Regions from separate parts of the Homo sapiens genome. Here regions 2 and 3 are each linked to region 1. Evidence: fine-mapped expression QTL. A gene starts in region 1. Each other region holds a variant in brackets. All regions are shown on one strand. Distances are between the middles of the regions. Region 1 holds the start of NUP210 (nucleoporin 210). Region 2 overlaps NUP210 (nucleoporin 210). Region 3 overlaps NUP210 (nucleoporin 210).

What was found. PIP is the estimated chance that this variant, and not a neighbour inherited with it, causes the effect.
Region 2: its variant is fine-mapped to the expression of NUP210 in nasal epithelium (TOPMed, PIP 0.94).
Region 3: its variant is fine-mapped to the expression of NUP210 in whole blood (INTERVAL, PIP above 0.99).

What each region holds. Positions count from the first base shown.
Region 1 is chr3:13,414,676-13,425,337 of GRCh38, forward strand. It overlaps NUP210 (nucleoporin 210), which reads right to left and starts at 5,647. Exons shown (of 40, transcript NM_024923.4): 1 at 5,385-5,647. The coding sequence starts at 5,551. RefSeq lists enhancers at 1,790-1,939, 2,000-2,069 and silencers at 4,862-5,431, 5,482-5,881.
Region 2 is chr3:13,327,175-13,337,836 of GRCh38, forward strand. NUP210 (nucleoporin 210) reads right to left here. Exons shown (of 40, transcript NM_024923.4): 27 at 9,613-9,744; 28 at 8,280-8,438; 29 at 5,119-5,210; 30 at 3,286-3,460; 31 at 1,597-1,772; 32 at 43-263. Among named protein-coding and RNA genes, the nearest start is that of NUP210, 88 kb to the right of the region's middle. RefSeq lists enhancers at 1-192, 193-692, 4,920-5,279, 5,600-5,649 and a silencer at 3,585-3,752. The variant G/C (reference allele first, on the strand shown) is at 5,219.
Region 3 is chr3:13,309,280-13,319,632 of GRCh38, forward strand. NUP210 (nucleoporin 210) reads right to left here. Exons shown (of 40, transcript NM_024923.4): 38 at 9,951-10,046; 39 at 9,793-9,876; 40 at 6,956-8,502. The coding sequence ends at 8,402. Among named protein-coding and RNA genes, the nearest start is that of NUP210, 110 kb to the right of the region's middle. The variant C/T (reference allele first, on the strand shown) is at 7,156.

The DNA of each region.
Region 1 (10,662 bases):
TTTGCACTTGCTGTCCCCTCCAACTCAACCCCACTCCACTCCTAGTTCGACTCCCAGGAGGCTTATGCTGAGCGCCCTCCCCAAAACACATTCCATGCCTTGCAGTTCTGTTTCCTTCAGGACTTACTCCTGCCTCACATGCATCCACAGATCTCATCTTAATTAACCGTTTAACTCCGGCAATCAACTGTGAGTCCCTGAGAGCAGGGCATCTCCTGCTGCTTCACTGTCACATCCCAGGACCTCAAGTAGTGCCTGGCTCATAGTAAGAGTCACAGACAGGTGGGTGTGGTGGCTCATGCCTGTAATCCCAGCACTTTGGGAGGCTGAGGCGGGTAGATCACAAGGTCAAGAGATCTAGACCATCCTGGCCAACATGGTGAAACCCTGTCTCTACTAAAAATACAAAAATTAGCTGGGTATGTGCCTGTAGTCCCAGCTACTTGAGAGGCTGAGGCAGGAGAATAGCTTGAACCTGGGAGGTGGAGGTTGCAGTGTGCCGAGATCGTGCCACTGCACTCCAGCCTGGCAACACAGCGAGACTCCATCTCAAAAAATAAAAAGAGTCACAGACATTTGTCACCTCTTATTCAGTGACTCTCCAGCCCTCCTCGGTGAAATATGTGTCGTCCATCAGTGCTTGTCCCCTGGTGCTCAGGCAGGACGGGTCTTCACCGTGTGCCCTCTCCCAGGCCCTGCGGGAGCTCTGGTTTCTCCACCCCACTTTCTAACTGCCAGAAATGCCATCAAATAGGCCCAGATGATAACGCAATCGACCAAAGCCTGTGACTCTAAGGCCAGGCATAAGGAAGGAGACAGAGATTTGGCCTAGGTGTGTGGGGATGCAGCATGCACACAAATTGAGTGGTACAGGGGAAAACACTCTCAACGAAAAGAGCAGAAGTACAGGTGTGGGCTCAGGGAAGGCCAAGTGAAGGAGGTACAGAAGAGCAAACTGGGGGCCTCCCGTCGAATTCAACTCCCTCTTTTGGGTTGTTTCCACTTTGTGAATTTTTTATTTTGACTATGGGGCAACTTCTTACAGGCCCTGTTGCCTCACCTGTGCAAGTTTCCAGCATGTGACCTGCTGACGTGCCCGTCCCAGAGGCTCAGGGTCCCTGAGCCCAGCAGAAGCCAGCTAGGCCAGATGACACTCTGACTTGGCTCAGCGTGCATCCCTCACCCTTAGTGCCCAACTTCACCCACGAAGGCCTGTGAGGGGATTTGCTGCAGCTTCCCCTGCTGGGGCAGGGAGAGGGACCCAGGACATCCACACGCAAGGGTAGTGCTGGCCTCTGGCCTCCCACAGTCACCCCTCAGCAAAGAGGGACTCCCCAGGGGTCATCTGAACTGCCTGGGGTACAGCATGCCCCAAGGCCAAGCTCCACGGCATAGGGACCAGTGCCCTCCCTGGCCCTGAAAGGACTCCCATCTACCTGTTTGAGAATCCTTACACCTGTGACTGAGAAGTGCCCCAGACCACATAAGAGAGGGTGTACCCTGGTGCAGGACCAGGCCTGGCACACGTGTTAGATGGCTCCAAGGTGCCCAGGAGAGACTGTCAGGGGCAGGAAAGGAGAAGTCTGTGAACAGCTTGGTATGGCAGTCACTGTGCATGCTGTGTCTGGATGTTGTTCACCAGGCAGGTCCACATCCCCTCCCCACCTCAGCCAGGGGAGCTGCAGGTCGTAATTCAAAACAGAGTGTCTCCGCCAGAGGCCCGGGAGGTCGCACAACATCCCCTTCCCCAGGGGAACCAATGGCTGCCTGACAGTGGGTACAAAAGCTCAAAGCTTGGTCTCTTCGCCTGAAGGCAGGACAACCTGCAGGCAGCCTCCCTTCCCTATCCAGCTGCCCAACAGAGCACTTTCTCTGTAAACTAGGGCAGCAGAATCCTGCCTCAGGCTCCACCCCTGGGAAACCAATCTGAGCCACTCACTTTCTCCAAGACAGCGCCCCCTTGCTGGAGCACCCAGAATACCCTGGGACTCCATGACAGGGAAAGAATCAATGAGGAGGCAACTTCAACCCAGCAGAAAGGTGCTCAGACACGGAGCCCTCAGGAAGAAGCAACAGAGCAGTGCTTGGGCTTCAGTGCTAGCCAGTGTTGGCAGGGGAGGAGGTTCCCGAGGTGCCCAAATAACCAGGTTCAAGGCAATGTAAGAAAGGAGCTAGGAGAGGAAACATAAGTGACCGAAAAGAAACCAAAATGCTGCCTGTGATTGTATTACAGCTGGAAGATTATGGCATGATTTCTTTTTCGTCTGTTCTCCCAGTTTTTGATATGAGGTCGTTTTGTATATACCTTTAAAAGGAGCAAATGTAATATACTTTATGGAACACTTTCAATAATGCAAAATATCTAGAAGGAATCAGGAACTTGTCACAAAACCAGTGCTGGCTGGGTGCAGTTGGAGAGAATTAGAGCCTGGCAAATTAGCCAGAGGCTGCCAGTCCCCAGGTCTAATGGCGTGGGACAGGGAGGGGTCCCAGCAGCTCCTGCTCCAACTCAGTGTCCATCGCTACAAGACTTCCCAGAGATCACTTCCCCTTCTGGAGCTCAGGTTTTCCTATATGAAACACAGGCTGTTTAAACTAGGTGACCTCTAAGGTTCCCCTGGCCCGAAAACTGTCCAATTTTGATGTTATAAAATAAAAAAAATAGGAAAAGTAAACATGAAGCTGTTGGCTCAGGCACACACAGTGATTTCTGTAAACTTAGAGCTCAGCTGCAAATTCAATGGATGTGCAAATGTTCCCACAGGGTCTGGCAGAATTCTCATTTTCTTTTTCGTCTGAGAGACTTAACAATGAACTTTCTGGATGAAGAGGTAATGTTCCTCCCAGGTTTAGAGGACTGTGGATATATGTCTATAGGCCAGCTCTTAAAATCTCCAGAGCAGATTCTTCAAAACTGCAGCAATAGACGACTACACTAGGAACAGCAATACTAAAAATAAAGAAAATATTCTCAATGCTTGATTGACAGAATGTCTTCCTGTCAAGTTAAGGGGGAATCACAATTTCCAAACACCTCTGAGAAGACACTTTGAATAGCAGTCACACATCTGCAGTCACACATCTGCAATACAAACTACAGATCAACGCCAAACACGTTATAAGGTACTTAGCACTTCTCTGATGCATCAGAGATTAAGAATGTTTTTTCCCTTTTTCCTACCAAGTAAATTAAAATCCACCAACACCCTTCAGCTCCTCTCAGAAAAGAAAATGATGTTGGGGGGGAAAAAAGTGTTGTTAGTTTAGAAAAAGAAAAAAGTACAGCTATAGAATCTCAGAGAAAGTAACACACAAATATATCCAAAGGGATTCACTTGAAGCCAGCTGTTTTTAATAACCAGTTTCCTCTTTCTTGCCCACATACTGAGAGGACAGACAGCTTCAACAAGAGAATGAGCATGTATCCCCGCCACAGTATTGACTAACAGCTGATTTTCCCACACAAGACTAGGCCTTAGACTGGGATACAGAAAACCTAATGCCCAAGTTCAGCCTCTGGCATCAGGCCAGAAATAGGAGCCTCCAGGTGCATAAAGCACTAAAACCAAAATGCAATGGGCTGACCTAGTACGTCTTGATTTCAGGAAGGAGACCTTCAAAAAAGAAATAGGGCAGGCCGGGTGCAGTGGCTCACGCCTGTAATCCCAGCACTTTGGGAGGCAGAGGCGGCGGGATCACTTGAGGTCAGGAGTTCGAGACCAGCCTGACCAACATAGTGAAACCCCATCTTTACTAAAAATACAAAAATTGGCCAGACAAGCCAGGCATGGTGGCTCACGCCTGTAATCTCAGCATTTTGGGAAGCTGAGGCAGGTGGATCGCTTGAGGAGTTCTCCTTGGTCTTGAGGAGTTCAAGACCAGCCTGGCCAACACAGTGAATCCAGAGTTTGAGACCAGCCTGGCCAACATAGTGAAACCCCGTCTCTACTAAAATGCAAAAAACTAGCTGGGTGTTGTGGCGGGCGCCTGTAATCCCAGCTACTCGGGAGGCTGAGGCAGGAGAATCGCTTGAACCGGGGAGGCGGAAGTTGCAGTGGACAGAGATCGCGCCATTGCACTCCAGCCTGGGCAACAAGGGCTGGAGTGCACTCTAAAAACAAACAAACAAACAAACAAAATTAGCCAGGTGGCCTGCACCTGTAATCCCAGCTACGAGGCGGGAGAATCGCTTGAACCCGGGAGGTGGAGGTTGCAGTGAGCCGAAATCGCACCACTGCACGTCAGCATGGACGACAAAGCAAAACTCCGTCTCAAAAAAAAAAAAAAAAAAAAAAAAAGAAAGAAAGAAATAGGGCAAATAGTGCAAGCAACAGAGAAAGCTGGCTGGTCTGAGCTTCGGGCATCACACTTACATACACGCACAGACTAATACTCAAACAGGCTTGACACACACATGTCCAGGCTTACACACATGGCTGTCACGTGGTCACACCCCGTTCTGCCTCAACCTTGACCCAGTCTTGAAACAGAAATAAAGGGAGCAACTACTGAGCATCCTGGGGGTGGGAAGGGCGGAAGCCCATCTTTTCACCCCTAGGACGGCTGGGCTGGGAAGCTAAGGGCGCTCAGTCGTGCCCACGCAGCCTTGCCAGGGGCAGGAGCTCCATTTCCCCTGGTCTGCAAAATGGAAGGGCTGGACTGCACCGCCCTGTCAGTGTCGGTCTCTGGTTTCATGGGTCCCTGTGGTTCCACAGGGTCACACTCCGCATCCGACCCCTTGGAGAACTCCCAACCCGAGAGGGAGGGTGATGGAAATGCCCTGAGCATCAGGACCCGCGCCGAGGCAGCCTGAGGGGAAGCGCCGGCCTGCCTCGTCTCACTTCGCCTCTGTAAAGCGGCCCCTGGGCTTCCCTCCAAAACTCCTTTCCTCCAGGGTCTCCGTTCCTCCCCGCGACGCTAGGCGCTGCGCTTCGTTTCACAGACTCACTTCCCACGCCAGGGCGAGGGCGGTCACAGACAAACCCGAGCTGGGGTCCCAGACTCAAGGGAAGTGCGGCCCAGCTGCCCCGGCGCCCCCTCCCGGGTCAGGCCGGCTCGGGCCCGGCCGGCTTGGGCCCTGCGGTCCCAGACGCCGCTCCCCAGGCCACCCCTCCTCCCGCACAACCCAGAACACGCGGGTCACGGCCGCCAGGCTGCGCCCGCTCTGCTCGCGCCTCAGCGGCGCGGAGGCCCGGACGGCGCCATGACATGAGCAGTGGTGGCGACCCACGCGCACCCGCCGCTCCGAGTGCTGCAGCCTAGCGCCCAGCGAGAGCGCGCCGCGCACCTGCCGGCTCTGCCGGCCTCCCGGCGCCCGCCCAGCCTCTCAGCGCGAAGGCCCAGCCCGGCCCACGGCGCCCGCCCGGCCCGGCCGCGCGCCTCACCAGCGGTAGCAGCCCTCCGAGGCCTCCAGCGTGAAGTTAACGCGCGTGGCCCGCGTGAAGGGCAGCAGCACTTTGGGGATGTTGAGCTTGGCCGCAGCGGCGGAGGGGCCCGCCGCCAACAGCACCGACAGCGTCAGCAGCAGCAGCCCCCGGCCCCGCGCCGCCATCCTCGCCGCGCGTCACCTCCCGCGACCCTGCGCCCGGCCGCCCGCGCCGCCCCGTTGCCCTCCGCTCCCGCCCGCGCGCGCGCCAGGCCAGCAGGTGATGAGCGCGGGGGCGGGGCGAGGGCCGTCGGCGGCCGCCGCTTCCTGGGCCTGAGCGCGGGAACTCTGGGGGCCGAGCTCGCGGCGACCCCACCCCCAGCCCGGCCCTCGCGCAGGGACGCGGGGCTGGGGGATGGGCGCGCGCCCGGGCCCCCGGAGCTGAGGGAGAAGGCTTGGGGCGCGCCCGCGGGGACCCCTGGACCCTAGAAGTCCCAAGGGGGAGCCCCCGGGGCGCCCCGCAGCACGCATCCCGCCCTGGTATTTGCCCCTGGCGGTGGAGCCAAGCCGCCGGCTTTGGACCTTGCGCTCTGGCCCGGACCCACGGTCAGCAAGGAAGGGACACATGCCCCAGGACATTTGGGATGCAGAAAACCGGCGCCTGCCTTGTCCCAGCCCATGCTTCCCAGAAGAGGGACCCCGGGCTCGCAAAGGGAAGCCACCTGCTGAAGCGCTGAAGGCCCGGGGCCCGCTCCCCCTCGACCCCCTCACACCCTTTCCAGAGAGGCCTTAAGATTCCCATTTCTCCAGGAAAAAACCGGTTGAATGGCCCCCAGATCACTCAGCCAGAGAGCCCCAAGCTCTTGTCCTCCGCACTGCACCCCCTGCGGAAGCCATTAGAGGTTACCTATAGGTCATTTAGGGCGCCAACGCTGCCAGAGCACAACCCCCTCCACGGCCCCCACACCCACAAAAGAAAGTTTAGCACCGCGGAATCCACCTGCACACCAATGGAAGGCCTTAGATTCCGCGCTGTGCTCTGTGGCTTTTAGCTGTCTGTCGTGAATTGCATGAAGGCATGCGTCAGCAGGCACCTGACTGCTTGGTGCCGCTAAAATATGAATCTAGCCTTGCAGAGAAGGCCCAGCCTAGCGGGAGGTCAGGAAAGGGTGGGGTGAGGGTGCACTGGCCGGCTGTCTGAGGAGTGCAGGAAGTGGATGCTGACTGTAACCAGGAAGACACACAACGATGCCACTGGGTGACCAGGAAGGAGAGGATAAATGTCAGTAAGGCTAGGAAGGCTTTTTGGAGGCGGCGGCCCCTGGGTTGGGCATAGACACCGCACTGGGCTTCAGCGAGGCCCGCATAGGCTGAGCCTGCCCCTCAGGGATCATGGGGCTTTTGGATGGTGATGCGGGGTGTTTGGGGTCACCCTCGAAGCCTGAGGGCCCTAGACCAGGGAATGTGTGTGTTGGGGGAAATCTCTGGAGATAACCAGAACTAAGGGGGTGAGGGTCGGCCCTGTGTGGAACCAGGTGCTCTGGGAGGGGAATTCCAACGGGCTCCCTTTGAAGAAACAAAAAACAGACTTGCGCGGAAAAGGCAGCCTCAGAGGGTATTTGTGAGGAAGTCTGTGGGTGTCTTCTGGGTTGCACAAGATTGATTTGTTTTCCAACAGGTAATCCAGACAGATGGTTGAAACTTAGGCTCAAAAGGGTTCCAAGTGAAAGTGATTCCTCTCCCTCCCCATCACCCAATACCCTTCCCTACAGGCAATGAGTGTTTCCCACTTGAGTATACATCCAGAGAAATTTTATGCATAAACAAGCATATATATATATAAAACATGGCACACATGCACACACATACACATACATGCACACACATATGTATATATGAAATATGGCACATATACATACATATACATATGTCTTGCGAGGCAGGTAAATCTCACTCTTGGACATATATCCTAGAGAAATGAAAAGTGATGTTCCCACAATCACCTGTACATAAAACATTCATAGCAGCTTTATCAAATAGGCCCAAACTGGAAACAGCACAGAGGTCCTTCATGGGTGATGATTAAATACTGTGGCACATCTATGCCATGGAATATTATTCAGCAAAAAAAGAAATGAACTGCTAATACATCCATCTTGGATGAAGCTCCAGGGAATTATACGGACTGGAAAACAAACACTACAAAAGCACAAAAGGTTACATACTGTAAACTTGCTTTTATACAAGATTATTGAGTTGGCAAAATTATAGAAGTATAGAGCAGGTGAGTGATTGTGGGGTCAGGGGCGGCGTGGCATAGGAAGTGATGTGGCTATAAAAGGTCAACATGAGGAGTCCCTGGGATGGAAGTGCTTGGTGGCTTGACTGTATCAATGTCCATTTCCTGGTTGTGATATTATCCCATAGTTTTGCAAGATGTCTACTAGTGGAAACGGGGTAAAGGGCACATATTATAGCATCTCTCTTGTTATTTGTTACAACTGCATGTAATCTACAATTATCTCAAAAAAAGAATCATACAAACAGGCCCAGCAAAACACATCTGAGTGGACACAGCTTGCTAAACAACTACGTTTCAGGTGATTTAAGGCAATCAGGAAATTTTCCCAGCAGAAAACAATCCATGGAAGACAACAAAATGGGCCGGGTGCGGTGGCTGTCACCTGTAATCCCAGCACTTTGGGAGGCCAAGGTGGGCAGATCACCTGAGGTCAGGAGTTTGAGACCAGCCTGGCCAACATGGCAAAACCCTATCTCTACTAAAAATACAAAAAGTCGCCAGACATGGTGGCATGCATCTGTAATCCCAGCTACTGGGGAGGCTGAGGCAGGAGAATCACTTGAACCTGGGAGGTGGAGGTTGCAGTGAGCTGGGATCAAGCCACTGCACTACAGCATGTGCAACAAGAAACTCCATCTCAAAAAAAAAAAGGCAACAAAATGATGGGTAAAACATTTTCCATCTGAGATTTTATCCCTTTACGTTGTCCTTAAACTTGCCCCCAGACCCCATTTCACTTGCCTACAAACCTGGTATGAGATGGTATTTGGGGCCAAGCCAGGGGTCCATGTGTAGGGGCCACCCCCACCTTCTCTGTGGGCTGTTTCCACTCCCTGGCATTGGGCCCCTTCTTTGGGTGTCAGTGTTTATCTGAGATGCAGGGAGCCAGCCATGGACAATGGCCTGAGCACAGCCTTCTGTCCTGGCACAGAGACCCTCTGGGCTGGAAGAGACCACAGATTTGAGTGAGCCGGTTACCCACCTGATAACTAAAACCAGATAGGAAAATGTCTCCTGACCCACATCAGGGTCTCCCAAACTTCTGTTACTTTCTACCACCCTAAAACATTTTAAAAAATAATATCTATCTGAGTGCCACTTGTGCTGTTATTTCCTGTCTTTAAATCAAAGTGTTTACATATATTTACTTAAGAAGCAAACTTTGTCTCTTCTGTTAATAAAAAGCCATTATCAGTTTGCAAAATATAATAGAAGTAGCCATAAAATAAATACAGCGAAACAAAAGAATGCCTTCAAATTACCGCAGGATACTATTTCTTGCTAAAGGCTGAGAGCCCAAGGCCTGCTCTCAGGGCCTTCAGTGGGAAGATAACCAAACACAAGACAGTGTGAAGGACAAACCACACTAATCTTGACCTTTCTCCTTGGGCATACAAGTATGGAGAGATTTTTCAAGGCAATTAACTTTTTCCTAGGGGGACGTTGTCCTTTTAGAGCCTACCCACCATCTTTTTGTGACAACAGTAATTTTTATTTGTATTTCATTTATTTATTTATTTTTGAGACAGGGTCTCTCACTCTGTCACCCAGGCTGGAGTGCAGTGGTGCAATCTCAGCTCACCACAGCCTCTACCTCCTGGGCTCCAGCCATCCTCCCATCTCAACCTCCTGAGTAACTGGGATTATAGGTGTGTGCCACCACATCCAGCTAATTTTTGCTTTTTGTTTTGTTTTGTTTTGTTTGTAGAGACAGGGTTTCGCCATGTTGCCCTGGCTGGTCTCGAACTCCTGGACTCAAAGGATCTGTGCCCCTTGGCCTCCCAAAGTGCTGGGATTACAGCCATGAGCCACTGTGCCCAGCCCAAACAGTAATTTTAAAGAATCATTCTGCAGTGGGGAAACTTAAAGAGTCATAGAGTAGACAGTGGTATAATGAAGCCCCATGACTGTCCAGTTCTGTGGCCACAATCCACAGCCAATTCTGCTGCTTCTGCAGTCACCACAGGCCCCACCCTATCTCATTTTGAAACAAATCCAAGATATCCTGTCATTTCGTCTGTATTTCAGTTTGTATCGCTAAGAGATAAGGACCCTTTTATAGACATAACCACAATACTATTATCACACATAAAAAAGTTAACAGTAATCTTATGGTCATAAAATATTATTAGAGTTCAAATTTCCAACTGTCTCATACATTCATAATACCTTTTTACAGTTTATACTTTCAGAATCAGGATATAAGTAAAGTTCACACATTGCAATTGATTGAAATGTCTTTTAAGGCTCTTTCAATCTATAGGCTTCCTTCCCCATTTCTCCTTTTCTCCCTGAATTTAAATGTTGCCCTTTGACCTCTGGAGTAGACATTTGTGTTTTCAGACACCCCCAAGCTGAGTCCCCACTAGCCTGGGCCCTACTGCAGCAGCAATGGGGGTTTCCGCCTCTCACAAGTCTGCCCCCAGGCTTTGGTCATGGACTCTGGAAATGGAGGAAAGGGACACCCACTGTGGACCTTCAGCACCACCTCTGAGCTGGAAACCTTGGCTTTGGGCAAAACAAAAAAGAAGTAAAACACCAGGAGCACTGGAATGGCTTCCACCTTTGCAAAGTGCTTTCCAAAACCCCATCATACTTAAGAGAATGGCAACACTTAATTACAGAAATTGCTGCTCAAGTCAATGCCCAGACATGCCTCCTGCTCATGGGGCCCATTTTCTGGATGCGTTTACTCTTCCTCAGAATGTGTTCCTCACACTTGCCACCTTCAGCCTCTGCCAGGATTGGCAATTGTTTGCTTCCTGTGGGCCCCTGGGTCCTTCCCCACAGGCATCACTAGAGGATGATGGCTGCAGAATAAGTGATGGCAGCCAGCTTGTCACACCTTCAGCCTGCCTTGGAAGTCCAAGCGCACGTGTGTTATCCCAGCCACCTCAATCTGATTCCAGCAAACCTAGCTGGATACACAAGGGAGTCCTCAGACATCACCAGGCCACCAACTCTGCAAGAGTACAGGCTCTCTACTCCTTGCTTT
Region 2 (10,662 bases), 88 kb before region 1:
GTCCGTGACTCCACAGGTTCCCTTGCTCAGGATCTATCTTACCTTCCAGGCTGGTCAGAACAGTGGCCAGACAGAGCACGTCCCCCACCACCATGGCCCCAGACAGCTCTGGGGAGATGGCCTGTAGGACAGGCAGGGGCATGAAGTCCGAGAGGCCCGGGTGCTCTGCGTCCCACACACGGAGCAGTGTCAGGCCCACGCTGACTGTGCGGACAACGCAGGTGTTGTTGGTGGGGCCCTTCCCGATCTGCACAAAGTCGTCTCTAGGCACAGGAGAGAAAGGAGGGCTCTCAGTCTCGGGAAAGAAGCTTCCAACTCCCAAAGGGAGAAACGTAATCCATGTCCTCTGCTGAGCAAAGCATTCAACTGACTGAGGTCCCAGGTGTGGCCCCAACTCGAGGTTACCAAGCAGTGGCCCCAGATGAGGGACCACTGCAGGCAGGTGGCACAGGCTCGACCTCCTCACTTGTCATGCCAGAAAGCACATGCAGCTCGCAGCCAAACAGTGGCAGCAGCATCATTCCTGCATTTCAGAAAGGAAGCTGAGGCCCCGAGGGGAAAGAGATCCAGAGTGCTTCCTCACGCTCTTCCCACCAGGGAACTGGACATGCCAGAAAGGGAAGGCTGCCCTTACTATGCAACCTGACTGCAGAAGCAGCCTCTGCCCCTTTCCTCCTCTGAAAAATGGGGATCATCACGTGACCGTGACGCAGGCCTGGCATAAGCATTACATGAGGTCAGCAGTGGGGAGGCACCTGCCACAGGGCAGGTGCTCAGTCAATGTTGGCAATGGCAGCTTTGGTGCAGAAGTGTGGACTGCGTGGGGTGACAGTTTGGGTTAGGGATCATGGCTGCATCCTTGCCTCCACCACACCTTCTGACCCTGAGTGCTGACTAGGTCTCTATCAGGTGCTCCTGCTACAAGAAGGCCAGAATGACCTGCAGTGCAGCCAAAGGGCTGGGAGAACTGGGCTCCATTTCCTCCAGGACATGCCCTAAACTGATGGATGGCAATTATGTGCGCACACACGGAGTGCCATGGTTTGCCAGCGGTCCTCATGACCACTCCCTCAGCTGAAGGAAAGCCCTGGAACCTAGGCCATATTGCCCAACGTGAGAGGTGTGGAAACAGATTTTTGGATGGTGACCTACTCACAGGGCCCACGAAGGGCAGAGCTGGGGCTAGAACCAGGCCTGACTCTAAACCCCAGTTCTTTCCATAAGGCAACACCCCTGACACCTGTCTTTGAATGCATTCAGCAACAGGGAAACACAACTGTGGCAGGACCTGTGGGCAGCCGAAGCTGAAGGGCCAATTTCCTGTGCCTCGGGGAGCACTCCCTGGAGCTGCCCCATGCCCTGTTTCCTCCTTTGGGGGCTGATGCCTGTCTGTCTTCCTCTGAGCTGGTCTACATCCCCCAAGGGCAGTGGTGTTTCCTCGTGGCCCTGCATGGTGCAGCATGCCCACATCTCTTGGAAACTGAAGTAATACACATCTTCCTTCAACAGCAGCAGACTTTCTGTGTTATCCCCAGTTGTCTCTACCAGGTACCAGACAGGACTTCATAGGAGAAATGACCCTTGCCCACATCCTACCTGTTAGTGGCAAAGTTGAGGACCGAACTGTGAGCATGGAAGACATCTCCAGAGTTGTCGTGGAAGTGGACAGTGAAGGTCACGGTCATTCCCAAAGGCACGGCCACCAGGGCCTCCTTGTTCTGGGTGTGCAGGACAGGGCTCATGGAAACCCTCAGGTAGGAAACAGGGGATACCTAAGGGACAACATACAGGTATGATGAGGATTCAGTGCCAGGGACTGGCCTCCAGGAAAACCCACCTCCCAAGGAGGGGACACCTGCCCCCAGCAGGATCCACCTCAGGAACAATGCAGGGCTGGACTTAGGGGTCCTGAGAGGAGTAAAGGCCACACTCCCCAGAGTGTCCCAACCTAGTGACAAGGTTCTTACTTCCCAACACAGCAGACTGGCCTCTCTATGAGAAAACCCACCCAGGAGTGTCCCAATCCATGACTTGAATAAATGAGATCACTATTTACATTGCAAGAGGGCCCCCTGGGCTGCAAATGTCCAGTTTCTTCAGAGAACCTGGCTCTTGGGGCATTTAAAGAAACGAAATCCTCCTCGATCGCAGGGGCAGCGCTAAGCAGGCCACAGCATGCCCTGCAGGCCACCAGGGGAAGGAGGGAAATGGGGATTTCTGGAGCCCAAGAACCCGAGCTCCATAAACAGCAGCCCTTGTTTCTCTGAGTCCAGGTGAAAATCTATCCTCGCTCAAAAGCTAGTGCTCCAAAGGTCTGAATTTCTTTAACAAAGTTCAGTGGTGCAGTGTCTGGTATACAGCTAGTGCTCAGTACATATTTGTTGAAATAGGATGAGCAGTCAGTCACTTTCACTCACCAAAAACTAGAGCGGGGGATTTGCTGCCAGGCACCCATTTTGAAACAAAATGATGTGAATTAATGAAAGAGGTCTGTGACCCAGGCAGAGTCTAAAGATTTAAGTGAGTGTGTGTCTTCTGTCATCCAGGGTTCAGCAAGTGGTGATGATGAGACATGGAAAGAAAATTCCATTCAGCAAAACCCCAGGACCTGACCCAGGGATGCTGATGGAGAAGGTCCCATCCGTAAGGAACACAGAACGGCAGAGGGCAGTGCCATGATATGGCAGAAGGACACGGCCCAAACCAGACAGACCCCATCACTCAACCCCCATGCAAGCTTAAGCAAGTCACTCTCACTCTGAGCCTCAGTCTCCTTGTCTGGAAAATGGGCCACCTCATTCTCAAAACCACAGTGGATGTCACGTACTGGATGTCACGACTTGTATGGCAGGTACTGAGCACAACATTCAATGCTCTTAAGAACAGACCATGTTCCAGACACTGGGCTGGCCCAGAACAGGAGCTCCACCATGGGTGGTGATAACATCAGTGGCCAGGCACAGTGGGTGGAGCACCCGCACTCCAGTCAGGAAGCTGTGGTGCCAGTCCCAGCTCTGTAACCTTACGCCAATCATGGACCTTGCTGGGCCTCATCTATGAAATGAAGTTCTTGGAATCAATGATTTCCCAAGGATCTTCGGCTCTGATGACCAGAAGATGCTGTAGCTTTTTATCTACCTAGGACCTTTGCCCCTGAGTTACTCTAAATGCCTGTCTACAGTTTCTTAGCTGGAAGGTGAACGTATTCACTTTTACACCTGAGAGGCATATTACCTCAGTGCTATTGCTTTCATTACTCCAAAAAGGAGGAGAATGCAACCCTACCTTTACAGCAACAATGATGGTTTGGTTGGCCCCAAAGGGCTCTTGTGCAATCACTTCGATGGTGGATGTCCCGATCATAGACCCTGATGCTAGAAAGCCTTTCTCATCAACATGCACAACTGGAACCTTTTCGGGTCCATCCAGGACGCGGTAGCTCAGAGAGGCTGCACCATCCCTTTGGAAAACAAAACAGAGCTGTTTTTGTAGATGGCAGCAGTGGGAGTGGGCCTGGATACAATGCCAGGAGATCTAAGAGTCTGTGGCTCCTCATGCTCCTGGGAGGAAAAAAGGCCCAATCTTGGCCCCACGGACCTCAGGACCACGTGCCGTCAGTTGTCTGAGGCTTCATCAGTCACCCACGGAAAAGTAATTCAGAAATCCAATGGTTCCGAGCAAAGTGTGGCGTCTCACTCTTCCCAGAGCAGTGCCTGCCGTGGGTCAGCCAGCAGGGAGGGAGAGACTATGAGGGCAGTTTCTTTCATCAGCTCCATGGGACATCTACTGTAAAATATCATTTCTGCAGCAAATTGTTCTCAATTTACTGAAGCAAGGCATCCTGGCATAGTGGAGGATGGGGCTTTGAGTCCGACAGAATCCAAAGCCGGTCCCAACATGTCCTGCCACCAGCTGTGTGCACATTATGTCCCCTCTTCTCTCGGCGTTGACTTCTTACTTGGTAAAAGGTGTGTAATGATCCTGTCTTGTCCTATTTCTAAGGACTGTCAACAGGATAAAAACAGACTACCCGCTAAGAAAACTGTTAGCAAACTACTGATACTATGTACTGGGTAGGAAGCAAATTATGCCGTATCTGTTACCCTTTTACATATTTATTAATATAATAAAGAAACCCAGGAAGCAAAGGCCTCCAGCTCCCACGGCTAGTTTCCATCATCTCTGTCTCTTCCACAGCCCTATAGATGACTAGGAGCAAATGTTATTGCCTCTGCCTAAACATTCTTCCCCCACCAACCCCTTCCTCTTAACCTGGGGAACTCTTATTCATCCTTCAAGAACTGCAGCCCGAGCATCTCCATCTGGGACATGCCTCCCCTAAATCCCCATGGACAGCACCCTTCTTTGGGCTCTGGTTTGAATACTACACCTTGCTTTTTAATAGCCTTCTCCTGCTACCCTCCTCCGGGGCACCCTATGTCACCCATATCTGTGTTCCTGGAGCCCAGCATGGAGCCTGGCACTTTGTTACTTTTGGCTGAATGAAAACATGTATGTGTTTCATGCAACATGTAAGTGTCCTGTGGCCCGTGGAGTCTCCCGCTTGGCAACTGCCATTCAAATGCAAGCCACTGTTACGAAAGGCATCCCCTTGGAATCAAAGGTAGGAATTAGGTTTGCAGAAGAGCTTTAAACAGCTTTTCCCAAGCGTTACTGTGCGGCCCCCTCGCCTGGGGATCTCCCTAGGGTGCAGCTTCTCCCTGGGCAGGTCTGGGGTGGGGCTTGAGAGCTGCATCTTCTCTTCCCGGTGATGCTGATGCTTCTGGCTCATGGGCTACACTCTGAGTGGCAAGTCTTGAAACACAACATTTCTAAGCTGGTGTTTTTTTCCCTTTTAAAGACTGAATTTTAGTACCTCGCATAAAAATGTTTCTAGGCTACAAGGAGGAAAAAGAGACCCACAGTGAGAAGTGATTTCAAGAAGCAGAGGAGCACCACAGAGAAGAGAAGGAGCAGGCAGAGGCCTCACCCATTCCAAGCACAGCAGGAGAAAACCTCCCTGAAAGTACCCATGGCTCCTGACAGTGTTGACACATGAGGTGTCGGATGCAAGCACAGCCGCACAACTTTGCTGGAAACAAGAGCTGAGTCACGTACCTGTTTGTCTGCAGCTTTATATATGAGTTGGGCGACATTAATATTTGTTCTGCTTCTATTTCAGGGTTGAGCAGCTGCAGCTTCTCAAACACCTGCAAGA[G/C]AGGGCAAGTTTCACTTCCGATGGGGCACTGGAGTCACATTCAGGCCAGATGTCTGCTTCTCTCCTAGCAGCAAGAGCCGAGGAGGGGCCAGAGAGGAGAAAAGCGGCTTTCTCGTCTGTCAGGTCACTGATGACATGATGTGAAGGGCTGACCTTTAAGAGGCCAAAGGTGTGGCCGGGTAGAGTAGCTCAGCCAAGGCAACACAGCAAACCCTCAGTCTCTACAAAATAATTTTAAAAATTAGCCAGGCATGGAGTGTGCAACTGTAGTCCCAGCTACTTGGGAGGCTGAGGCTTGCACTCCAGTCTGAGCAACAGAGCAAGACCCTATCTCACACACACACACACACATGGCCAAAGATATGATGAGAAAAGACAGGCAGGCTCATGTTTGTGTAGTCTAATGGGAGCTCCTTCAAGGAGCCTGGAAACACAGGCCTCTCCCTCCGTGCCCAGTGAGGAAGAACTTTACCTGCCAGGATGTGAGCGCGGAGGGCAGCACACACAACTCCAGCACCAGGGTTTGCTCAGGATAACTGTGCCAGGACTGAGCCTGGGCAAGGTGCCACCGAACTGCTCCCTTCTCTCACAGAGACATCCTGCTCCTCACTGCCACCATCTCAGAACAACCCCCGTTCCACCTCCCAGGCTCCTCTGGCTGGCTCTGGCCATGTTCTTGCAGGATCCACATAGACACACACAGGGGCCTGGTGAGGAGCTCAGTCCGGCAAATGATCAGCCTCATGAGGTCGGCTCAGATCTGATCCTGGGACGCCCAAGTGCTCCAAGGCCCTGGTGGCTCCCCGAGCCCATGGCAACAGCACTTACCTGGGAACTCCAGGCCCCTTCTCTGCAAGACTTCAGATGTGTCCACCACCTGTGTAAGTCCCCTCTCTCAGGCCCCTCAGGGCTGCTGCCTCCTCGGCCTCCCAGCCTGGCTCAGGGGCAACCACTCGCTGGCAGGTAAAGCTGTGCCCTGAGCTCTCCACTGGCCTCTGATCAGACCAGGTGGACACCCCTCGGGCCTGAGCCCTGGGCCATGGCCAATATCATCGGATCTGACGAGTGATTCTCTGAGAGGAAGATGGCCTGATTCCACCCCTCCCAGCTCCTCTGTGCTCTGTCCACGTAAGCCTAGATTTCCTTGTGTGTAACATGGTCCACAACTAACGTCCTCTCCATGCCTGTCTTGAGAGTTGTGGGCTCCATATGAGGTGACAGGAGGAACAACACTTCCCAAACGGTGAGAAACAGCCTTTGGGAGCTGGGTGGGGTTTTGGCGTCAGGTGAGACGAGGCTGACTCGGATGCCCCCTTCCGGCATCCACACGGAAGCCACCTCACTGAGTCTGACTCGGACACACTTACTGCCTGGTAAATACATTCATAAATAGGATTCCTTCTATTTTTTTTTAAACCATGCATTCCTATTTTCTCTCTTTAGATGGAGGGGGAGTTGTAAGATATTTCCCACTTTCCTGTTAACTATAAGAAAAGCAACAGCATGAGCACCATGGTAAATGGCAACTGATACTTGATATCACTGTCAGGGAGAAAACAGGGAGTGGCGGGGCCTGTGGCAAACTGGAGAGTGCAGCTCTAATGGAGTCAAGGTTGCTTCTCATTGCCTGCTGATTTTGCTGTGGCAGACACCATATCTTTAGGACATGCTGCATCTTAGATTTTTACCTGGAATCTTCCTATCTTTACATGACAACAAGCTGTCTCAAAGGCCTGAGTGAGCCAAATAAAACACGTTTGTAGGCTGGATCCAGATTCTCTAGTTTCTGATTTACTCAAACTCTACCTGCTGTCAGATAGGGAAACAGAGGCACAGAGCTGCCAAGTGACCCAACTGAGGTTACAGAATTTGGAAGCTGCAAAACCCTGCCTTTAATTCCATGATAGGCTCCAGGACTTACTTCCTTTTAACAAAGAACATGCATTTGGTGAGTGTGGGGATGTGCATGTGTACCTCTGTGTTGTATGTATGTGTCTCTATGTATGTGTGTCTGTGTGTGCATGTGTGTCGTGTGTGTGTGCATGTGCAGGCAGGGGTGAGGGGTTGGCAGATCGGTGGGGGTTTTTTTGTGGGTGTTTCTTTCTTGAAAAGTTTGCTTCTTTGCCCCTGATCAGGGAGGTGCTTGGGTTAGACATAGTTTATTTCTTCTTGAGGCGGGGACTAGAAACTGTTTCTTTTCTTGGGACATATAAGGAACACTTTTTGTTTTTCTTTACAGCTTAGGAGCACCCAGGGGTTACTGAGGCCCAGAGGAGCAGAACGAGGCCCTTGAAGACAAAAATGCTCTTCAGAGCCAACTTGCCAACTCTCCACCTTGCAGAGGGGCCCAGAGGGGCAGGAACTCGCCCACAGCCCATCCTATAAGTAGCAGGGACAGGCTGGATACAGACACAGGGCTGCACCCCAGGCAGGAGAACCACTAGACGCAGTCCTGACCCCTGGCTCTGAACAAGGCGCCTCCCTCTCTGAGGCTGTTTTCCAAATGCAGACAGGGCACAGTCCCCAGGCCTCTTGAGGCCACCCCCAACTTACCCTGTGACCTTGACCCTCCCCGCCTCAGGGGCATCAGCAGGTGGCAGCCCCTGCAGCCCCTGCCCCGCAGGCTTCACCTGAGGACTGGAGGCAGCAATACTGAAAAACGTGCAAGGGCGCCCCAGCCTCTGTTGGGTGCTCTATGTGTGTTAAATAAACACAAACGATTAAATTATCAGCCACTCAGACACAGTGAGCCCCAAGCTCAGAATTCTTTGCTCTTTTGGCCACACATCAAGTGAGTTCCCACCTCCAGGCCTTTGCCAGCCCCTCCCATCCTGAAACATTACTCCTCTGTGAAGCCTTTGCTTGGCCCCACCTCTGGGCTCCCATAGCACCAATCACACCCGGATGTTTACCCCACTGCGATGGACCACTGTCATCCCCACGGACTGAGAGCTTCTCAGGTCTCTCAGCCCCTGCCCATGCAACATGTGGCCCCGAAGGAAGATTGGGCAGCTGGCACTTCCTCTCCCCCTTCCCTGTGGCCTTTCCACCTGCCTCCTACCTGGACTTGGATCTCATCCGAGAGTTCTCTGGCCAGGCCATACAGCTGCCCCGATGTGGGGTCCACAGCCTTGACCACCACCCTCAGCCCGGTCCGGCCTTTTACCCGGCCGAGCACGTTCATGGCAAAGTTGTACTGTGACGGGAGTCGGATCGACGCCTGGGAAGACATCAAACACGTTTTCAGGGGTAAGGCCCAGGCCCCTGTGTCCTCAAAAAGGCAGAGCCGGACAGTAGCCCCAGACCCCCCAGCCCCCCAGTCCTGGTAGCTGCTGGCCTGTTCTCAAGGGCTCTGCCTTCCTGCCTGGGTTGGGTCTGCTAACCCCAGAGCTGTGCAGACCCGGCTTCCCCAGCATGGGTGCCCGGGTCCTGCCCTGCCTGCATCGCACAACATGCACAGATGCATTTGGAAAACACTGGGCCCACCCACGTAAGCCAGGGGCCTTCATGACAGGATGTCCCTCAGACTTCAGTGCTTCTAGGTCACCCAGAGCGATGCTGGGTTTTGCAGTGTGTCCCTGCAGACTATTCTGTTTGGGGATATCTGCTAATAAGTCTCACTGTTTGTGTTCCATGGGAGCAATCTGGGGGAGCCCCCGGGCACCAGGGACAGGACTCTGTTCCCACTGGGTGGGGTCGGGGGGCATTCGTCCCACACTAGACAAGCTTCAGGCAGCCTTTAGGAAATCCTATCCCTGGGCTTTGGTCTCTTTCCAGGCCTCCATCCCCACTGTCCCTGAATCAGGCAGGGAGCGACCTTTCAAGCCACCCTCCACTTGGGTCCTGTGTGTCCAAGGCCCACCTGGGCTTGGGCCTAGAGTCACAGGGGCTGGTGCCCAGTACCATTTCCCCACTGGCTTGCTGGGCAACCCTGGGCAAGTCCCTTCCCGTTTCTGGCCTCAGTTAACACAGACAGACTTAGTAGTCTCCCTGGCACCTTCCAGCTCTGACATCTTAGGAGAAGCCAGGGCCCCTCGCTGGGCTAAGGGAAGGGGAATTTGGCCTCTGGGATGAACCAGGAGAAACCGAGGGCTGCCAGGCATCATCTCAGAAAATGGTCAGAAGCTGCAGACTCTGACCTCCCAGGACTTTTGTGACTTCCTCACACGGCTGCTTCTGTTGGGAGAGGCACCTACTCACCCCGTCTATGTGTTTAGCATTTGGGAGAAGGGAGTCCCGATGAGCCTCGGGAGAGGGAAGAAAGTGGGCGGGCCTCTCTAGGTGTGAGGGTGGGGACTTCCTGTGGGACAATGTGGCAGGAACCCTCCCTGCCACTCGGGGTGCTGGCCTGGGACAGGGGTGGGAGGTGAGCTCTGGAGGGGGTGGTTACCTACCTCGTGGTGCCGCCCTCGGAGGTCCAGGACGTCCCGCTTGGTGACAGACCAGTGGAAGGTCAGGCCTGGCACGGCATTGCCAAAGGAGAAAGGGTTCTGGTGGTTGGTGATGCCGGTGACATAGATGGGCATCTGCAGGGGAGAAGTCAGGCCCAGTGAGCAGTAGCTCCCAGCACTGGGAATGCCCCCAGAAGCTTTGCTGCCTCCTTCAAGCAGTGGGAGATGAACCCAATTCCTCCCCAACTAGAGAAGAGCATGGCACAGGTTTGGGAATTTTGATGAAATATCAAACGAGCAAACCAGAGGTGGGACTGTTTTCCCCATACTGTCCCTCCCCTGCAGCGGGCTGCACCTCTCCATGGCCAAGATACTCATTTCCGGAAGGAGTCCCTGGAGCTCTAGGAGGCCATGGGTCCCCCAGCAGCACAGCTCGTGCTGCCCCACAGTGCTGGTTCCTCCGGGCCCCTCTCTCCTAATCTAGCTGGGGTCCCTGCTCACAGGGCACGTGTGGGTGGGGTCCCTGGCTCCTTTAGTCTCTATTTGCTGTGTCGGCTTGAGGGCACAGGCGGAGGCAAGACGGCAAAAGGCCACAGCAGGTGTTGTGCCAGGCTGCCCAGTCCACTCCCACTGCTGCCACTTCCTAGCTGTGTGGCCCTGGGCACGGGTCTTAAGCTTTCTGTGTGTTCATTTGCTCATCTGCGACACGAAGATGGTTCTGACACCAGCCTCCCAGGGCTGCTATGAACACCAAATGGATTAATGTCCAAGACAGCACGGAGTTGAGTTAAGTGCCACAGTCACTGTGCTCCTGTTAGGCACCTGGTACTATTCCAGATGTGGGAAGGTGACAGGCCAGCAGGAAGCAGGCCTTCATCAGTGGCTACCAGAGAGCAATGGAGGGTGTCTCCCTGGGTGGGGACAGGTGGGAAGCAGGCCCTAGATACCCGGGCCAGGCAGATGGAGGAGGTGGAGAAGCACTCTAACTTGAGGACAGGGTCCCAGCAGTGGCTCTTCGGGAACCAGGATTCAGAGCCCAGGAGGTCCCCTCAC
Region 3 (10,353 bases), 110 kb before region 1:
TGGCAGAGGGGACTACTGCTAAGAAACAACTCCTGGAGAGGTGTGTCACGGTCCCCAAGAGACTGGGGATGGCTTCCCTGGACCACCCAGGAAGACAAAGGAAGAAAAGTTCACGTTTATTGAGCATCAAATGTTTGCTCACCACTGTTGTGGGTTGTGGTGGGGGAAGGGGTGGTTCAACTCAGTAATTACGCCCACGTGGCAATGCTACGAAGGTCATATAATTACCATTTTGCAAACAGGGAAACTGAGGCTCAAACATGAAGGTTCCAAGGTCATCCAGCAGGTGAGTGGCAGAGGCAGGATTTGCTTTGCACCTGGGCCCCATCCACCAGGTTCGCTGGCCGCTGCTCTTGCCCCCCGACTCTCCCCCGTCCACTGAGAAAGACCCCAACAAGGAAGCTACTATGCTTGAAAGCAAGGAAGCAAGGGGTCTTTCAGATTCCACTTTCCAACTTTCCTGGTTCTTGTCAGTGGTCTTTATGGGCTTTCAGTGAAGCCTCTCCAAATGGAAGTGGTCGCCTGATGAGCTATGAAATCTTCCGCAGAGGTTCATTTGCTAATTACATACAACAGAAAACTTAACAACGTGATAGACGATCACCCAGCCTGTGACCTCGGGTTTTGCTTCTTTTTTTTTGAGATGGAGTCTCGCTCTGTCGCCCAGGCTGGAGTGCAGTGCCGCAATCTCGGCGCAATCTCGGCTCACTGCAAGCTCCGCCTCCCGGGTTCACACCATTCTCCTGCCTCAGCCTCCTGAGTAGCTGGGACTACAGGCGCCCACCACCACGCCTGGCTAATTTTTTTGTATTTTTAGTAGAGAAGGGGTTTCACTGTGTTAGCCAGGATGGTCTCGATCTCCTGACCTCATGATCCGCCTGCCTCGGCCTCCCAAAGTGCTGGGATTACAGATGTGAGCCACTGCACCCAGACTTACTGATGCTTTTTAACAATAAGAGTTGCTTTGGAAAGATTGTCTCCAACTTTATAAAAGTAGTAGCCTATGAAAAGAAAAACAAGAGCCGGGTGCAGTGGCTCACTCCTGTAATCCCAGCACTTTGGGATTCCGAGGCAGGTGGATCACCTGAGGTCGGGAGTTCAAGATCAGCCCGACCAACATGGAGAACACCGTCTCTACTAAAAAAATACAAAATTAGCCAGGCGTGGTCGCGGGCACCTGTAATCCCAATTACTCGAGAGGCTGAGGCAGGAGAATTGCTTGAATCTGGGAGGCGGAGGTTGCAGCGAGTTGAGATCGTGCCATTGCACTCCAGCCTGGGCAACAAGAGCAAAACTCCATCTCAAGAAAAAAAAAAAAAAGACGAAGGGCTAGAACGTAGAGGTTAAATGAGACAAGTTATAATAGTAGTTTTTTTCTGTCTATTTTTTGAAAAACAAAACAAAACAAAACACACCTTGGAAGCCTATGAGATCATGCTAACAAGAGCCTACATTGAGTAGTAGGCATGGGGGTTTGTTAAATTATTTGTTGTACTTTTCTGTTAAAAGTTTTTTCTTTTCCTTTTTTTTCTTTCTTTTTTTTTTAGATGGAGTCTCACTGGACTCACTGCAACCTCCACCTCCCGGGTTCAATCGATTCTCCTGTCTCAGCCTCCCAAGTAGCTGGGATTACAGGCGCATGCCAGCACGCCCAGCTAATTTTTGTGTTTAGTAGAGACAGGGTCTCACCAAGTTGGCCAAGCTGGTCTCGAACTCCTGACCACAGATGACCTGCCCACCTCAGCCTCCAAAAGTGCTGGGATTACGGTGTGAGCCACTGCGCCCGGCCAAAACTTTTTTTTTTTTTTTTTTTTTTTTTTTTTGAGATTGAGTCTCGCTCTGTCGCCCAGGCTGGAGCGTGGTGGCGCGATCTCGGCTCACTGCAAGCTCAGCCTCCTGGATTCATGCCATTCTCATGCCTCAGCCTCCCGCGTAGCTGGTACTACAGGCACCCACCACCATGCCTGGCTAAGTTTTTGTATTTTTAGTAAAGACAGGGTTTCACTGTGCTAGCCAGGATGGTCTTGCTCTCCTGACCTCGTGATCCACCCACCTCGGCCTCCCAGAGTGCTGGGATTACAGGCGTGAGCCACCGCACTGGGCCCAAAACTTTTTTCTTATAAAAAAAATTATGAGACATTTTTTCTATGTTAAACATTGTTTATCATTTTTTTATTAAAAATTATTTTTAATAAAAAATTATTAGTAGTGGTGGTAGCAGTAGTAGAGACTCTGTCACCCACCCTGGAGTACAGTGGCTCCATCACAGCTCACTGCAGCCTCAAACTCCTGGCCTCAAACAATCCTGTCTCAGCTTCCTGAGTACCTGGGACTACAGGCATGTGCCACCACACCTGCTAATTAAAAAAAATTTTTTTTGGCCAGGCACAGTGGCTCATGCCTGTAGTCCCAGCACTTTGGGAGGTTGAGGTGGGTGGATCATTTGAGGTCAAGAGTTTGATACCAGCCTGGCCAACATGGTGAAACCCTGTATCTACTAAAAATACAAAAATTTAGCCAGGCGTGGTGGCAGGTCCTGTAATCCCAGCTACTCGGGAGGCTGAGGCAGGAGAATCACTTGAGCCCAGGAGGGAGAGGATGCAGTGAGCCGAGATCGCACCACTGCACTCCAGCCTGGGTGACAAGAGACTCCGTCTCAAACACCACCACCACCACCACCACCACCACCAACAACAACAACGGCCGGGCGCGGTGGCTCACGCCTGCAATCCCACCACTTTGGGAGGCCAAGGCGGGCAGATCATGAGGTCAGGAGTTTGAGACCAGCGTGGCCAACATGGTGAAACCCCGTCACTACTAAAAGTACAAAAATTAGCCACGTGTGGTGGTAGGCACCTGTAATCCCAGTTACTCAGGAGGCTGAGGCAGGAGAATCACTTGAACCCGGGAGGTGGAAGTTGCAGTGAGCCAAGATTGTGCCACTGCACTCCAGCCTGGGAAACAGAGTGAGACTCCGTCTCAGAGGCTGAGGCAGGCGGATCACCTGAGGTCAAGAGTGAGACCAGCCTGGCTAACATGGTGAAAACCCATCTCAACTAAAAATACAACAATTAGCTGGGCGTGGTGGTGGGCGCCTATAATCCCAGCTATCGGGAGGCTGAACCAGGAGAATTGCTTGAACCCGGGAGGCAGAGGTTGCAGTGAGCTGAGATTGCACCATTGCACTCCAGCTTGGGCAACGAGAGTGAAACTCCGTCTCAAAAAAAAAAATTTTTTTTAGAGACAGGAGCTCCCTGTGTTGCCCAGGCTGGTCTTGAACCCCTGAGCTCAAGTGATTCTCCTGCCTCGGCCTCACAAAGTGCTGGGATTACGGACATGAACCACCACTCAGCCAAAAAATTATTATTATTATTATTATTTGTTTTTTGAGACAGAGTCTTGCTCTGTCGCCCAGGCTGGAGTGCAGTGGTGTGATCTTGGCTCACTGCAAGCTCCGCCTCCCGGGTTCACACCATTCTCCTGCCTCAGCCTCCCAAGCAGCTGGGACTACAGGCGCCCGCCACCACGCCTAGCTAATTTTTTTTTTTTGTATTTTTAGTAGAGACGGGGTTTCACTGTGTTAGCCAGGATGGTCTCGATCTCCTGACCTCATGATCTGCCGGCCTCGGCCTCCCAGAATGCTGGGATTACAGGCATGAGCCACCGCGCCTAGCCAAATTTTTTTTTATAAAAAGTTTTTGTTAATTTTTTTTCTTTTTTTTTTTTTTGAGATGGAGTCTCGCTCTGTCGCCCAGGCTGGAGTGCGGTGGTGCTATCTCGGCTCACCGCAAGCTCCGCCACCCAGGTTTACACCATTCTCCTGCCTCAGCCTCCTGAGTAACTGGGACTACAGGTCCCGTTACTCAGTCCCACCACCACGCTCAGCTATTTTTTTGTATTTTTAGTAGGGACGGGGTTTCACTGTTAGCCAGGATGGTCTCGATCTCCTGACCCTGTGATCCGCCGCCTTGGCCTCCCAAAGTGCTGGGATTAGAGACATGAGCCACCGCACCAGGCCTTTTAATTTTTTATGAAAAGCATTTTTCCTTATAAAAAATATTTTTCTATGTTAAAGTTTTTTTTTATGTTAAAAGTTCTTTTTTTTTTTTTTTTTTGAGATGGAGTCTTGCTCTGGTGTGATCTTCGCTCACTGCAACCTCCACCTCCCAGGTTCAAGTGATTCTCCTGCCTCAGCCTCCTGAGTAGCTGGGATTACAGGCACATGCCTGGCTGATTTTTTTAGTTTTAGTAGAGACCGGGTTTCACCATATTGGCCAGGCTGGTCTTGAACTCTTGACCTCAAGTGATCTGCCTGCCTCATCCTCCTAAAGTGCTGGGATTATAGGCGTGAGCCACCATGCCCAGCAAAAGTTCTTCTTTATGATTATAAAATAATTCATGAGACAGTCCACAGCTGAGCTGGTCTGAGGGAAGTGGGTGCAAGGCTCCCACAGTGGATGCCCCTACCCAGGAGGGCAGAAGAAGGTACACATCGGGGGAGCAAACTCTGGTGCCAGTCAACCAGGATTTGAATCCTGGTTCTGCCACTTGCCAGTGTGTGACCAGGCGAGTGGCTTCACCTTGTGGGCCTCGGTTTCACCATCTGTAGGTGGATGGGCCTGCCTCCTAGGGCTGTGGCGGGGATGAAGTGAGCTGGTGACTGGAAACGCTCAGCATGTGCTAGCAGGTGGCGTGCAGGAAACAGCGGCGGCTTTGAGCATTCACCCTGCCTCTCGGCTTCTTCCAGCCATCTACACGGATCTACAGACTGCTGGGAACCATGCTGGTGGCCAGAGGTGGTTCTGTCAAGTTGGCTTCATTTGGCGCTGGCCCAGGTGGCTTGGAGTTGGCTGAAAGGAGTGGTTTGGAAGAGACTGAGTCAGCCCTCTCTGTTTTCTGTCCTGTGGTCCCTCCCTTCAGCCAATTCTCCCCTGAGCTGTGTCTGGTGGGCACTCTCAGCCTGTTCTGAGTTTCAGCCTCCACCTGCCCCCCTGAACCCTGCTCCTCTCCACACTGACCTGAGGCTCAGGATGTTCCAGAAAGTAGAACCCAGAGTTGGGGAAACCCAGAATCACATTCCTTCATGGGGGTTCATTCATGCATTCATTCCACAAACCATCCTGAGAACATCCCTCCCACTGTGGCCCTGCCATAAGGCTGCAATGGAGAGTGAGGCTGGGCAGGATGGTTTCATGTGGGCACAGGACTCACAATGATGGAGCGATGTGTCCTGTGGAGCCACATTCCCATCCACCCCCATAGCAGCCTCTAGTGTGTGGCTGACCACACCCTTGCCCAAAGAAGGAGATGGGAGCGCAGGAGGGGGCAGGCCCAGCATCGCACAGCCTTGCTGTGCCCTGTCCTCAGAGGCTCCTGACTGGGTGCCTGGCTAGGCCTGAGGCCAGGGATGCCCAGGACACCCTGTCCCAGCAGGATGGGCTGAGAGGGCCCACCAGACAGCCCAGAGGGAATCCACAAAGGGAGGGAACATGAGAGACGGAAAACATCTGCCTTCACTGGATTCAGCCAGAAGGGAACCATAGCATGTTTCTTACCTGTCACAGGTTGCTGCAACACTGCTGCCTACCACGCTGTCCCCAGGAACCATCACTCTTTTCATAGCCGTGGGCTGCAGGCCAGGTGATCCGGGATTGGCAGGTCCCTTGCAGGTGTCCTTCCTCCTGCTTGGACCTGCAGCTACCTGGGCTTCCTGATTACTACATCAATGGCAGGGGCATGAGGAGGGTGAGGGATGCCCAGCACAGACCCATGGTCCTTCTCACCCATGCCAACCAAAGCAAGTCACATGACCACACCTAGCCTCAATGGGCAGAAGGAACTGCAAAGGCATGTGGGAGAGGGCGTGCACAGAGGGAGGCTGAGGGTCTGGGGACAGACCCTCAGGAAGCACCTGCTTCCTGCTGGGAGCCACTCTGGGCAGGTGGTGGGTAGGACACATGTCAGGAGGGCCCTTTTGCAGGTGAGGAAACTACTGTGGCCCAGAGAGATAAATTTCTCTCCAGCCCCAGAACAAAGTGGACCTAGACTCCTGGTCACCTGATTGCTAAGCTCTCACCAGCCTAGACCTGTGCTACCCACCCCTGACACCCCAGGTTCAGTGCTCCCTGCTACTGAGTGTTCGCAGACTTTGTGATGTAACATTTCCAGGATGCGGCCGGGCACCGTGGCTCACGCCTGTAATCCCAGCACTTTGGGAGGCCGAGGTGGGCGGATCACGAGCTCAGGAGATCGAGACCATCCTGGCTAACATGGTGAAACACTGTTTCTACTAAAAATACAAAAAATTATCCGGGCGTGGTGGCGGGCGCCTGTAGTCCCAGCTACTCAGGAGGCTGAGGCAGGAGAATGGTGTGAACCTGGGAGGCGGAGCTTGCAGTGAGCTGAGATCACGCCACTGCACTCCAGCCTGGGTGACAGAGCGAGACTCCATCTCAAAAACAAACGAAAAACAAAAACAAAACAAAACAAAACAAAAAAACATTTCCAGGATGCAGGAATGCACATGTAAGCATGCACAAAGACACACAGAGAAACAGAGAACGAGAGTTCACTTTTGGCCAGACTTAAGAATTCTAGAGAAAAAACAATCTATATGATGTACTATATTTTTAGTGCTAAATGGTGCTAAAAGCCTTTTCTGGCAACCATTAGAGACAGAGAGTTGCTTGGTTAGCTTGGGAGCAGAAAGCTGAACTGTGTGGCATCACCTGGTTTTGTCAATGTGCCTTCTTGGGCACACTCACTTGCTGGCAAGATCTGGCTGCGTCCAGATGCACTTGCATTTGCCAACCTGAATGTGCTTGAAAATGATGCTCACCCTTTGGGGAGAATAAAGCTCAGACCTCCAGCTCTGCCAGGCCCCAGAGTATCATAGATGGGTAAAGGGAAGAAATCATCACCATCAGACAGAAATCTCAGCAACGATCACACCCTCTTAAAAAATCACATAGAACTTTATTAAATAAACCAGTAGAAAGGCTCCTATTTACATCCAGGTTGTCAGTTTAAGCTCAAGTAATATGCAAGGCACAATTCTTCCTTTCTCCAGCTTTAGAAAAATCAACCACATGGCCCAGCCCTGAAGGACTGAAGGGAGCTTGTGCGGGATCCCGTCATCCTGGACTCTCCACACAG[C/T]GTCCACGCATGGATGGCCATGGGCATGAGTCTCTGGATCTCCCTGAGGGTAGCCCAGCCTCGGCCTGGAGCACAGGGGCCTGTGATCTGAGAATCTCAGATCCAGAATCAGGAGCTGGGAAGAGAGGACTTTTCCAAGGGTCTCCTCCCCCAGGCCCTGGGGAGTCCCTTCTGGATGGGCAGGCCCTGGGCTGGCGGCCGCCCTCCATCATTGGCCCAGGCCGGGCTCTAGGGCCTGCTGGGAAGCTGTCTGGGGCCCTGCGCCTGATGAGCTGCCATGAAAGTGGCCGCCTCTCACACTGGCAGGCGGTGGCTCAGATCTGCTGAGGTTCTGGAGTGGCACAGGAACAGGAGGAGCAAATGACACTGGGTCTTTGTGCTGAGGCAGGACACAGCGGCTTTCCGAAACACACACACAGAAAATATGACTCCTGCTGCCATCTCAAGGACATTTTCCTAAGGACAGTCCTGGTGTCCTGATGGAGTGAAAGGGATCACACGTGGGATGTCCCAGCAGGGCCTAAGCCAAGTCCATCAGATGTCTCAACGGCTTATGAAACAAAAACAGAGGACTGAAGTCTGTTCACAGTGGCCCATGGTTGGGCAGCAGCCCTGGGTGAGCTCCTGTGTTCTCCAGCCTCTCGCTCACCCAGGGCTTGGCTATCCTGGCCTCCAGGTGCTGGTTCCTGAGGCTTCCCTTGCGGCAGTGGCGCAGATACAGGGACACTCATGTCCCATTGCTCCTCAGAAGTCCTAGCAGCAGCCAGACTAGGGGCAAAGTAAGTTTTCACAGGGGGAAAAACCCCACCAAAAACCCCCTAAAGTAACTGGACAATCCTTTCCCTGAGACCACTACAGTAACATCACCCACAGACAACTTCTAAAGAGCACTTCTAACTGCTCAAAGTCTTGAGAAGGGAAAGATTTTAGCAAGGCTAGGAAAATAAAAATGCAACAGCACATTGTCCAGAAACCCTAGACAACCATGCAAAAAGGAATGAGCCAAAAAGTCTTAGCTTTGTAAGACTTGAAAGGAAAAAAACACACATTTAAAACTCCTACATAAAATGAGCTAATGGGCAGAGCCGAAACTACAGCTCTGTGTGAAGAGACGGCAGTGAAGCTGGCCTGGGGCCGGGGCACTCATCTGGAGGGGCTTGTTCCAGTGTGAATGCAGCAGGGATGTTCCATCTTGGGGGTGCACGAGGCTCGGCTGAGACCCATCCTCCGGGAACCTTCACGCGGCCTAGTGGGAGGCATAGGCTGGGCTCCACAGCCCTGAGGGAGGGCTGGCTTTGCGAGCAGGAGGCAATGCATTGGGAGATGTGGGTGATGAGGCAGCGAAATCTAGGGTGGGAAGAGAGACGATGTTAGCAGCAGAGCCAGGGAAAGCGGCGCACTCTTCAGTTACAGCCAGCATTCAGCAGGCGCCTGCCTCACCCAGGACACTCTCACAGTGATGCCCCGAGGCCTCCCCGGCCAGCAGAGGGAAGTCCACGGGCACCTGCTGAGCTGGCCTCATTCACACAGAGAGGCCTGGGATGCCACCCTAACACCCAGGAGCGCAGAGCCTTCCGGGGAGAACGTGTCTCAAGTTTCAGGACCACAGCAGCATCTGTCCAGGGGGCATGAGGCAGGGAGGCCCCGTGCATCTGAATGCAATGCAGCCTCGGGCAAGAGCGCCACAGGAACAAAGACCCCGAGGGGAGCAGCGATTCTGCAGTGCTCCGGAGACCTTGCAGAGATCCAGGTGTGGCTCCCAAAACCCAGGGAGGAGCACGCTGAGAGAGGCAGCTAGAAAGGGCAGGCACCTGCTGCCAGAGCAGCTGCAGAAGGCAGCAGAGCCGCGAGGAGGCCGAGCACCCGTGGCCTCCCCTGGGTGCCGCTTTGCAGGTAGAGAAGTCGTCAGGCAGAAGACAAGGGCGTGTGGGCTCTCCTTACCCAGGAAAGTGCTTCTACCCACACAACTGGGTCTTCTTTCAAAAAAATTCAGGGACCCCCCTGAAGCCGGTCCATGGGCCCCCATGTCAGCAGACACGAGCTCGAGGACTCTTTGTGTAGGGGAGAGAACCCTCAAATGGGAATCAGGAGACATTAAAGGGCCTTCACGTACAGCAGTACAGGCTGGGCACTGCATTGTTTGAGAGAGAAACTACATTCACACAGTGAGGTGCTCCCTGGAGCTGTGCAGGGTCACCAGGGCTTCGGGGTCACCAGAGAGACAGTTAGACCATTGAAATAAATGACTTTGCCCATTCTTCTGGGAAATTTCTCATCAGAACTACCCAGAATCCCCATCTGTGAGTCAGCTCGTCCAACCCCAGCTTAGAGCCTTCTGAGGCAGCCTCAGCAATTGGGCATCCAGTCCTAGCATGCACTCCTGCCTAGACAGAGCTCCTTGCTGCCCATACCTCCACCCAGCATGGCTCTACCTGGGGAAAGCTCTTGCTGAACCAGGACTGGCAGCCCCTCTGCCCCGACCCTCCTGGCTCCCACATCTGTCCTCTGGGCCTCAGGCTCCTTTGGCCCAGGCAAGGGCCTGTTGAGACTTAGGGTTCAGGAGCCTCGACCCCTCCCCCAGGGCTCTTCTCTTTCTCAGCAGCTCTGCCTGGTTGTGCCTGCAGGGGGGCTACTCACAGTGGGGGCTGTGTCCAGGGCTGGCTCGAGGCGTGAGGGCTGCAGGCACAGCAAGATCCCGGGGCGTGCAGACAGTGTGGTAGGCTGCAAGAGCACAGGGTTGGTTAGAGCAGGTCGGGGCAGGGGAACAGACCCAGAGATACAGGCAGCCTCCTCACCTATGATCATGACCGCTGTCCCAGCCAACAGGGCGAAGAGCGTGAAGAACATGACCTGGTAGGAATCCAGGAAGTGCTGGAAGAGGCTGGCTCCATCTGCCATCAATGGGAAGATGAGTTACCAAAACCACCAGGCCCACTGTGGCATCCCATCACGTTCCTGCCCTACTGTACGTCTACAGGGCAGTCCACAGGTCCCTCTTAGATGTAAGGATGGTGGTCTCAGAGGGCCAGGCCACCTGCTGGAGGCCCGGGCCCACAGCTGTTCTTGGTACCCTGGCACTTCTTCTCCTGGCGCAGGCTGCTGAGCAGAGGGGCACAGCCCCTGTGGCTGCCATGTTGAGAACAGATGGGAAAGCTGGGCAACTAAAGCCTGCATCATGGCCCCAATGAGCAGCGATCA